Homo sapiens: one gene and its partner. The protein of the gene in region 2 purifies or fractionates together with the protein of the main gene of each other region. This does not show direct contact. Each region holds a gene or a part of one and is shown on either strand. Other genes may lie near its edges.

The links.
Region 1: the proteins of FOXE3 (region 2) and C5orf22 purify together in Homo sapiens (affinity purification with mass spectrometry; one large-scale study listed by BioGRID and IntAct). This does not show direct contact.

Annotation. Positions count from the first base shown.
Region 1 is NC_000005.10:31,545,755-31,549,566, forward strand, and holds part of C5orf22 (UPF0489 protein C5orf22), read left to right. Parts: intron 1-2,735; coding exon of another isoform or gene 2,736-2,933; intron 2,934-3,812.
Region 2 is NC_000001.11:47,414,937-47,418,803, reverse strand, and holds FOXE3 (forkhead box protein E3), read right to left. Parts: upstream 2,520-3,867; 5' UTR 2,489-2,519; coding exon 1,529-2,488; 3' UTR 752-1,528; downstream 1-751. UniProt on the Homo sapiens protein: Transcription factor that controls lens epithelial cell growth through regulation of proliferation, apoptosis and cell cycle.

The DNA of each region.
Region 1 (3,812 bases), on a different chromosome or scaffold from region 2:
GACAATTTTCTGGGTAGAAGAATTTCCTTTTTGTTAAAGTGGTTCGTTTTTGTTTGTGTTCCTGTGAAGTCTGAAACAATTATTAAGAAAAGAAATGAGTGAAAAAAATACATACGTTGAAACAGAATACTGTTTTCCTGGAAAAGTCTTCCAGGAAAAACTTTTTTTTCTCAATTTTATGTATGAAGCAAAAGTCCTGTGTGTTTTTTGTAATTTTGTCTGTGGTCGGATCTCTCTTCACCAGACAAAAGAAAAGTACACAATTTCTAAAATGGTCCATTTTTTATTGATGAGTATTTATACTGCCTTCTGCCTTCCTTCTTTTCCTCCCTATTTAAAAACTTTTCCGTTTGTAAAAACCACAAGACAAAGAAAAAAGAGAGAGCTGTGACTAGCACATTTTAAATGTGTTAGCTGTTTGTCAACAGGTATCTGAATGCTATGGCCAAAGATACTTTTAGTCATAATTTATTTGTATATCATTTTGCAGTCTTTGAAGCATATATTTTCCCATTTGACCTGGTACTTGAGATGAGAAAGCTATAGCTTAAAATGTTCAAGTGACTTTTCTCAGATTTGATGCCAGGGCTAAGACTTCCAAGTCTCCTTCCTCTTAGTGTGGTCTTTCTCTTACTTCAGTAAGCTGGGTTTGCATATTTTATTTACTTATGGAATACAGTCAGACCACTGTGTTTGACTAAAGTTGAAGTATTGATTTAAGTATTGATTGAATTTATAAGAATTTGCTGGTACTCTTTAAAATAAGAGATGTCTATTTTCACACTGCTGATAAAGACATACCTGAGACTGGGCAATTTACAAAAGAGATTTAATGGACTTACAGTTCCATATGATTGGGGAGACCTCATAGTCATGGCGGAAGGTGAAAGGCAGGTCTCACATGGTGGCAGACAAGAGAGAGAGCTTGTGCAGGGAGACTTTTGTTTTTAAAACTGTGAGATCTCGTGAGACTCATTCACTATCATGAGAACAGCACAGGAAAGACCCACCCCTACAATTCAATCACCTCCCATCGGCTTCCTCCCACTACATGTGGGAATTGTGGGGGTTACAATTCAAGATGAGATTTGGATGGGGACACAGCCACACCATATCATTCCATCCTTAGCCCCTCCCAAATCTCCTGTTCTCGAATTTCAAAACCAATCCTGCCTTCCCAACAGTCCCTCAAAGTCTTAACTTATTTCAGCATTAACTCAAAAGTCCACAGTCCAACATCTCATCTGAGACAAGGCAAGTCCCTTCCACCTATGAGCCTGTAAAATCAAAAGCAAGTTAGTTACTTCCTAGATACAATGGATGTACAAGAATTGGGTAAATACAACCGTTCTAAATGGGAGGAATTGGCCCAAAGGGGCAGTGCAAGTCTGAAGTCCATCAGGGCAGTCAAATCTTAAAGCTCCAAAACGATCGTCTTTGACTCCATGTCTCACATCCAGGTCACGCTGATGCAAGAGGTGGGTTCGCATTGTCTTGGGCAGTTCTGCCCCTGTGGCTTTGCGGGATACAACCTCCCTCCTGGCTGTTTTCATGAGCTGGTGTTGAGTGTCTGCAGCTTTTCCAGGCACACAGTACAAGCTGTCAGTGGATCTACCATTCTGGGATCTGGAGGACGGACAGTGGCCCTCTTCTCACAGCTCCACTAGGCAGTGCCCCTAGGGACTCTCAGTGGGGATCCGACCCCACATTTCCCTTCCACACTGCCCTAGCAGGGGTTCTCCATGAGGGGCCTGCCCCTGCAGCAAACTTCTGCCTGGGCATCCAGGTGTTTCCATACATCTTCTGAAATCTGGGCAGAGGTTCCCAAACCTCAATTCTTGACTTCTGTGCACTCACAGGCTTGATCAACACCACAAGGAAGCTGCCAAGGCCATCCTCTGAAACCACAGCCCGAGCTCTATGTTGGCCCCTTTTAGCCATGGCTGGAATGGCTGAGACACAGGACACCAAGTCCCTAGGCTGTACACAGCACTGGGACCCTGGGCCCTGCCCATGGAACAATTTTTTCCTCCTAAATCTTCAGGCCTGTGATGGGAGGGGCTACCGCAAAGGTCTCTGACATGCCCCAGATACATTTTCCCTATTGTCTTGGGGATTAACATTTGGCTCCTCGTTACTTATGCAAATTTCTGCAGCCAGCTTGAATTTCTCCTCAAAAAATGGAATTTTCTTTTCTTTAACATTGTCAGGCTGCAAATTTTCCAAACTTTTATGCCCTGTTTCTCTCTTAAAACTGAATGCCTTGGCCAGGCACAGTGGTTCACGCCTATAATCCCAGCACTTTGGGAGGCCAAGGCTGGCGGATCATTTGAGGCCAGGAGTTCAAGACCAACCTGGCCAACATGTTGAAACCCCGTCTCTACTAAAAATACAAAACTTAGCTGGGTGTGGCAGTGCACACCTGTAATCCTAGCTACTCAGGAGGTTAAGGCAGAGAATCGCTTGAACCTGAGAGGCAAAGGCTGCAGTGAGCCGAGATGGTACCACTGCACTCCAGCTTGGGTGACAGAGCGAGACTCCATTTCAAAAAAAAAAAAAACTGGATGCCTTTAACAGCACCCATGTCACCTCTTGAATGCTTTGCTGCTTGGCAGTTTCTTCCACCAGATATGCTAAATCATCTCTCAACTTCAAAGTTCCACACATCTCTAGGGCAGGGGCAAAATGCCACCAGTCTCTTTGCTAAAATATAACAAGAGTCACCTTTGTTCCAGTTCCCAGCAAGTTCTTCATCTCCATCTGAGACCACCTCAGCCTGGATTTCATTGTCCATGTCATTATCAGCATTTTGGTCCAAGCCATTCAACAAGTCTCTAGGAAGTTCCAAACTGTCCAACATTTCCCTGCCTTCTTCTGAGCCCTCCAAACTGTTCCAACCTCTGCCAGTTCCAAAGTTGCTTCCACATTTTCAGGTATCTTTTCAACAGTGCTCCACTCTACTGGTACCAATTTACTGTATTAGTCTGTTTTCACGCTGCTGATAAAGACATACCCAAGACTGGGCAATTTACAAAAGAAAGAGATTTAATGGACTTAGTGTTCCACATGATTGGAGAGGCCTCACAATCATGGCAGAAGGTGAAAGGCACATCTCACATGGCAGCAGACAAGAAGAGAGAGCTTGTGCAGCGAGACTTGTGTTTTTAAAACCATCAGATCTCCAGCCGGGCATAGTGGCTCACATCTGTAATCCCAGCATTTTGGGAGGCCGAAGCGAGCAGATCACCTGAGATCGGGAGTTCGAGACCAGCCTGACCAGCATGGAGAAACCCCATCTCTATGAAAAACACAAAATTAGCCGGGCGTGGTGGCGCATCCCTGTAATCCCAGCTACTCGGGAGGCTGAGGCAAGAGAATCGCTTGAACCCAGGAGGTGGAGTTTGCAGTGAGCCAAGATCATGCCATTGTACTCCAGCCTGGGCAAAAAGAGTGAAACTCTGTCTCAAAAAAAGTAAATAAATAAAACTGTCAGATCTCCTGATACTCATTCGCTATCATGAGAACAGTGCAGGAAAGACCCACCCCCACAGTCACCTCCCACCAGGTTTCTCCCATGACACATGGAAATTGTGGGAGTTACAATTCAAGGTGAGATTTGGGTGGAGATACAGCCAAACCATATAATGAGCAAAGCAAAAGAATATTTTGGTGAAACCTAAGCAAATCCAAGACTTAAACTTTTTTGTTTAACTTTTTTTTTTTTCCCCTGGGAGCATATATTCAAATTGCCCTGAATAAACACTTCCAAGACTTACACTTTTTAAAAATGGTAATTAAGAAGATCGTTATAA
Region 2 (3,867 bases):
GGGCCAAGATCCTGCATTTCTATTTATTTACTTAAATGAGGTCTCACTACGTTAGGCCAGGCTGATCCCAAACTCCTGGCCTCAACCGATCCTCCTGCCTTGGCCTCCCAAAATGCTGGGACTACAGGCATGAGCCAGCACGTCCTGCCAGATTCTGCATTTCTAACAAGCTCCCAGGTGATGTTGTAGGTCTGTGGACCACACTTTGAGTGCAAGGCTGTAGAGCACTTATCTTATTTCTCTGAGCGTTGATGGTTGGATTAATGACTCTTCCCACTGGCCCACAACCTCCATGAGGCAGGGATTTTGCCCATTCATTCAGTAATATTTCCCCAGTGTCTAGCACAGGCTCAGCACATTAACTAACTGGAGGAGTGAATCAACGGCCAGTGCTCCTTTATCCATGGGAGCTGGGAATAATCCCAGAGAGCAGACAACCTGCTGCTCAGATACATTCACACAAGTGTGTACACACACATGCCCAGCCCATCTCGTCTCTACCAGGCTGAGATGCAGGAGATGGCATTTGACTAGGCCTACTATGTGCACAGCTATGGCTGAATCACTTCCTTTTTAAAACAAAATTGTGTTAGCCACTAATCCTGCTGGAGAATCACTTCCTAATCCCATTTCATGAACTTCTGATTGATGTCTCACAAGGAGGTTCACCCCATGTGGCAACCCAAGATCTAGAATAAAGCTCACCCGTCTCCCCAGACCACTCCCCCAAGTCACCAGCCAGCACACCAAGTCCAGAAAAAAGTTTCTTTCTTTTTAATTAAACCAGCTTTAATTAAAAATAATAATAACCCAATAAGTCCTAAGTTTTCCAGGGGATGGGGCAGACCTAAAGGCCCACCAACTCCCCTTTCAGTCAGGAGCCCTGGTGCTGCCTGTCTGAAATCTCCAAGAAGTGTCCTCAGGGCGTGAAGAAGGCAGCCAGGTGTGTCTACGTGAAAGGGGGGCTCTCTCCCAGGAAGAAGCTGAGGGCAGACAGGTAAGTGGAGGTGGGGGGCAAACTTGTGGGAAAATGAAGGGACGCTAGCAAGTAAGTCATGAACCCAGGAGTCTGACCCAGGAGTGTCGGAAAAACATGAGAGAAGGTTGATGAAGTACAGTCGGTGGAGGAGGCGGCTTGGGATCACAGATCTGGCTTCCAAAGGCTTGGAACTCACCAGGAAACCTGGGGTATGGACTCACTGGAGGCGAGTCAGCTCCGGGGCAAGGGACCCACAGACAGCGCTGGGGTGGGGGGCGCCGCAAAGCTGGGGGCGCTCACAAGTGGAGGGAGAAGAAATGAGAGGCTGGCAGGTCAAAGGGGACGCTTCTGTCCAGTGGCGAGATGGTGGGAGCCTCCCCAGGGATGGGGGACGGAGAAGGATGTAGCAGGAGTTTGAGTCCAGGAGGCCACGACGAGAGGCGCAGGGTGTGCTCCAAGCCAGGGTGGGGGGTAGAGATGGGGCGCTCGAGGGCGGCGCCGCAGGTCCGGGGCACAGGTCGCACAGGTGCCTGCCCGCGCGGCGCAGGCTCACAGGTAGCGCTCCAGCCCCGACGCGAAGCCCGGCTGCCTCAGGTAGGCCTCCCCAGGGCTGAGCGGGCCGAGAGCGGCTGCCGGCCCGGCCAAGGCCAGGAGGGGCTCAGCGGGCAGCGGGCCGGGGCCGGGGCGCGTCGCGGGCAGTACCAGGCGGTCGGGGACCTGCGAGTAGAGTGGCGGGGAGGCGGCGGCAGCGCAGGGCGGGAAGGCTGCGGCTGCGGCGTCGGGCGCGGCGCAGCAGGGCGGCTCGGGGGCGCCCAGCCCCGCTAGCTCCGGCTGCAGGTTCACCAGGCTGTCGACGCTGAACAGACGCGCGGGCGGCGAGGGGCCCGGTCCGGCAGAAGGCGGCGGCACCAGCAGCGCGGGGCCGGGCGCGGGCGCGTAGGGCGCGTAGGGGAAGGGGAGCGGCGGCCCTGGCGCCGCGGCCGCGTGCGCGGGCAGCTCGGCGCGCTTGAAGCGCTTGCGGCGCCGCAGGAAGCTGCCGTTGTCGAACATGTCTGCGGCCGCGGGGTCCAGCGTCCAGTAGTTGCCCTTGCCCGGGTTGCCCGGCTCGCGGGGCACCTTGACGAAGCAGTCGTTGAGCGTGAGATTGTGGCGGATGCTGTTCTGCCACTTGCGCGGGCTGTCGCGGTAGAAGGCAAAGCGTTCGGTGATGAAGCGGTAGATGGCGGCCAGCGTGAGGCGGCGGCCCGGGGCGTGCGCCAGAGCCATGGCGATGAGCGCGATGTACGAGTAGGGCGGCTTCCCGCGCTGCAGGGGCCGCCGCCGCCGCCGCCCCGGGCCGGGCGCGGGCGTGGGGGCCGCCTCTCCGCGGCCAGCCGCCGCCTCCTCTGGCTCCCGCCCTGGCTCGGCTCCTGCGAGCGGCGACGGCGGCGGCCCCGACGGCGCGACCGCTGGCAGGGCAGGGAAGCCAGAGAACGCGGCGGGCGGATCCATGTCGCTGCGCCCCGCCATCGGCTGCGGCAGCCCCTGCCCGCGCGGCTCCGGGACCGCAGGGGCCGCCGACCCGCTTTATATGGACACGGCCCCCCCCCAACCACCGCCGGGGGAGAGGGCTCAGGCCTTGCCTGCTGGCCAGCGCCTCCCCTCTAATTTCCTCTCCCAGCCCCCTTACTCTGTTCACGGTACCCTCCTCCATTTCGCCCCTCCCTTTCTGCCTTTGGATCAGTTTTTCCCAGACCCAGACTCACCCCTTCCCCATCTCGGTTATATCAGCCCCTGGCCCCATCCCACTGTATTTGGTCAGTCCCCTTCCCTTTCCACCCCTCCTTCTACCCCCTCTCCTTTGGATCATTCCCAATCACAAATCCACCCATTCACTCTCCCAGCCCCCTCCCCATTTTGCTCCTCCCCATTTTGCTCCTCCCAGTAGTCGGTCCCCCCATCCTTCTCCTGGCCTTCCATCCCCAGCTGGAACAGAGATGAAGGCCGCCTTGCCAGCCCTCAGTATCCTGATGGGGAGGTGTCAGGCCCACTCACAGACATTAGGGAACCTGGGCCAAGGTAATGAAGCAGCGGGGCAGGGCAGAGCCAGGCCGGTTTTGTCTCTGGGAGAATGTTTGACTGCTCCAGATCAGGGTCACCATCTTGCCTCTCTGCCACCCCCCTCCCCCATACCCCTGTCATGCCCTCCCTCCAGGCCTTGAGAGCATTCTCTGAAAAAACAGAATTGTGGAAAGTGGTGCGGCCGCTTTAAATGAAGAGCCCCCAGGAAATCCACAACTTGGAGCTGCCTTTCTGGCTGCCTCCTCTCCACACCCCCCTGTTAAAGAAAACAGCTTTTCTTCACATACACACACACACACATACACCCACACACACAGTACAAAATGTAGGCTTCCACAGACTGGGGGTCTGAAAAAGCCGCCTTCTGACCCAGAAACACCACACTCACATCTCACTGGGGATGGGGGGTCTTTGGCAGTGTTTGTTAAAAACTCAGTCTGAGAAGTTCCACCCACAACTGGCATCCAGGGGGATGCAGCACCCAGCCTATTTTGGGAAACTTCTTCTCCCAAGAGACAGGAGACCCATCCCCAGCTCCAAGGGAACTACAGGGTGAAGGAGCCTTGTCTTAAAGTGGGTTGTCCTGGGGACAGGCAGATCAAGGGACTTGGACATGGAGCAGGGCTGGAAGGACAGTGAGCCCACTGAGGTGCCTGAGGTGCTGAGTTTAAGGGGAGCTCAGTCTCAGGGCCTTGCAAGTGCAGTCAGCACTTGAGAGCCAGGGCCTCCTTACATTTGGGGCATCTCACTTGCCCCATCCTAGTCCCCCAGCCATGCTATAGAGTGTCCCTAGGTATAGGTGACCAAAGCTAGTTACAGCAGGCCTG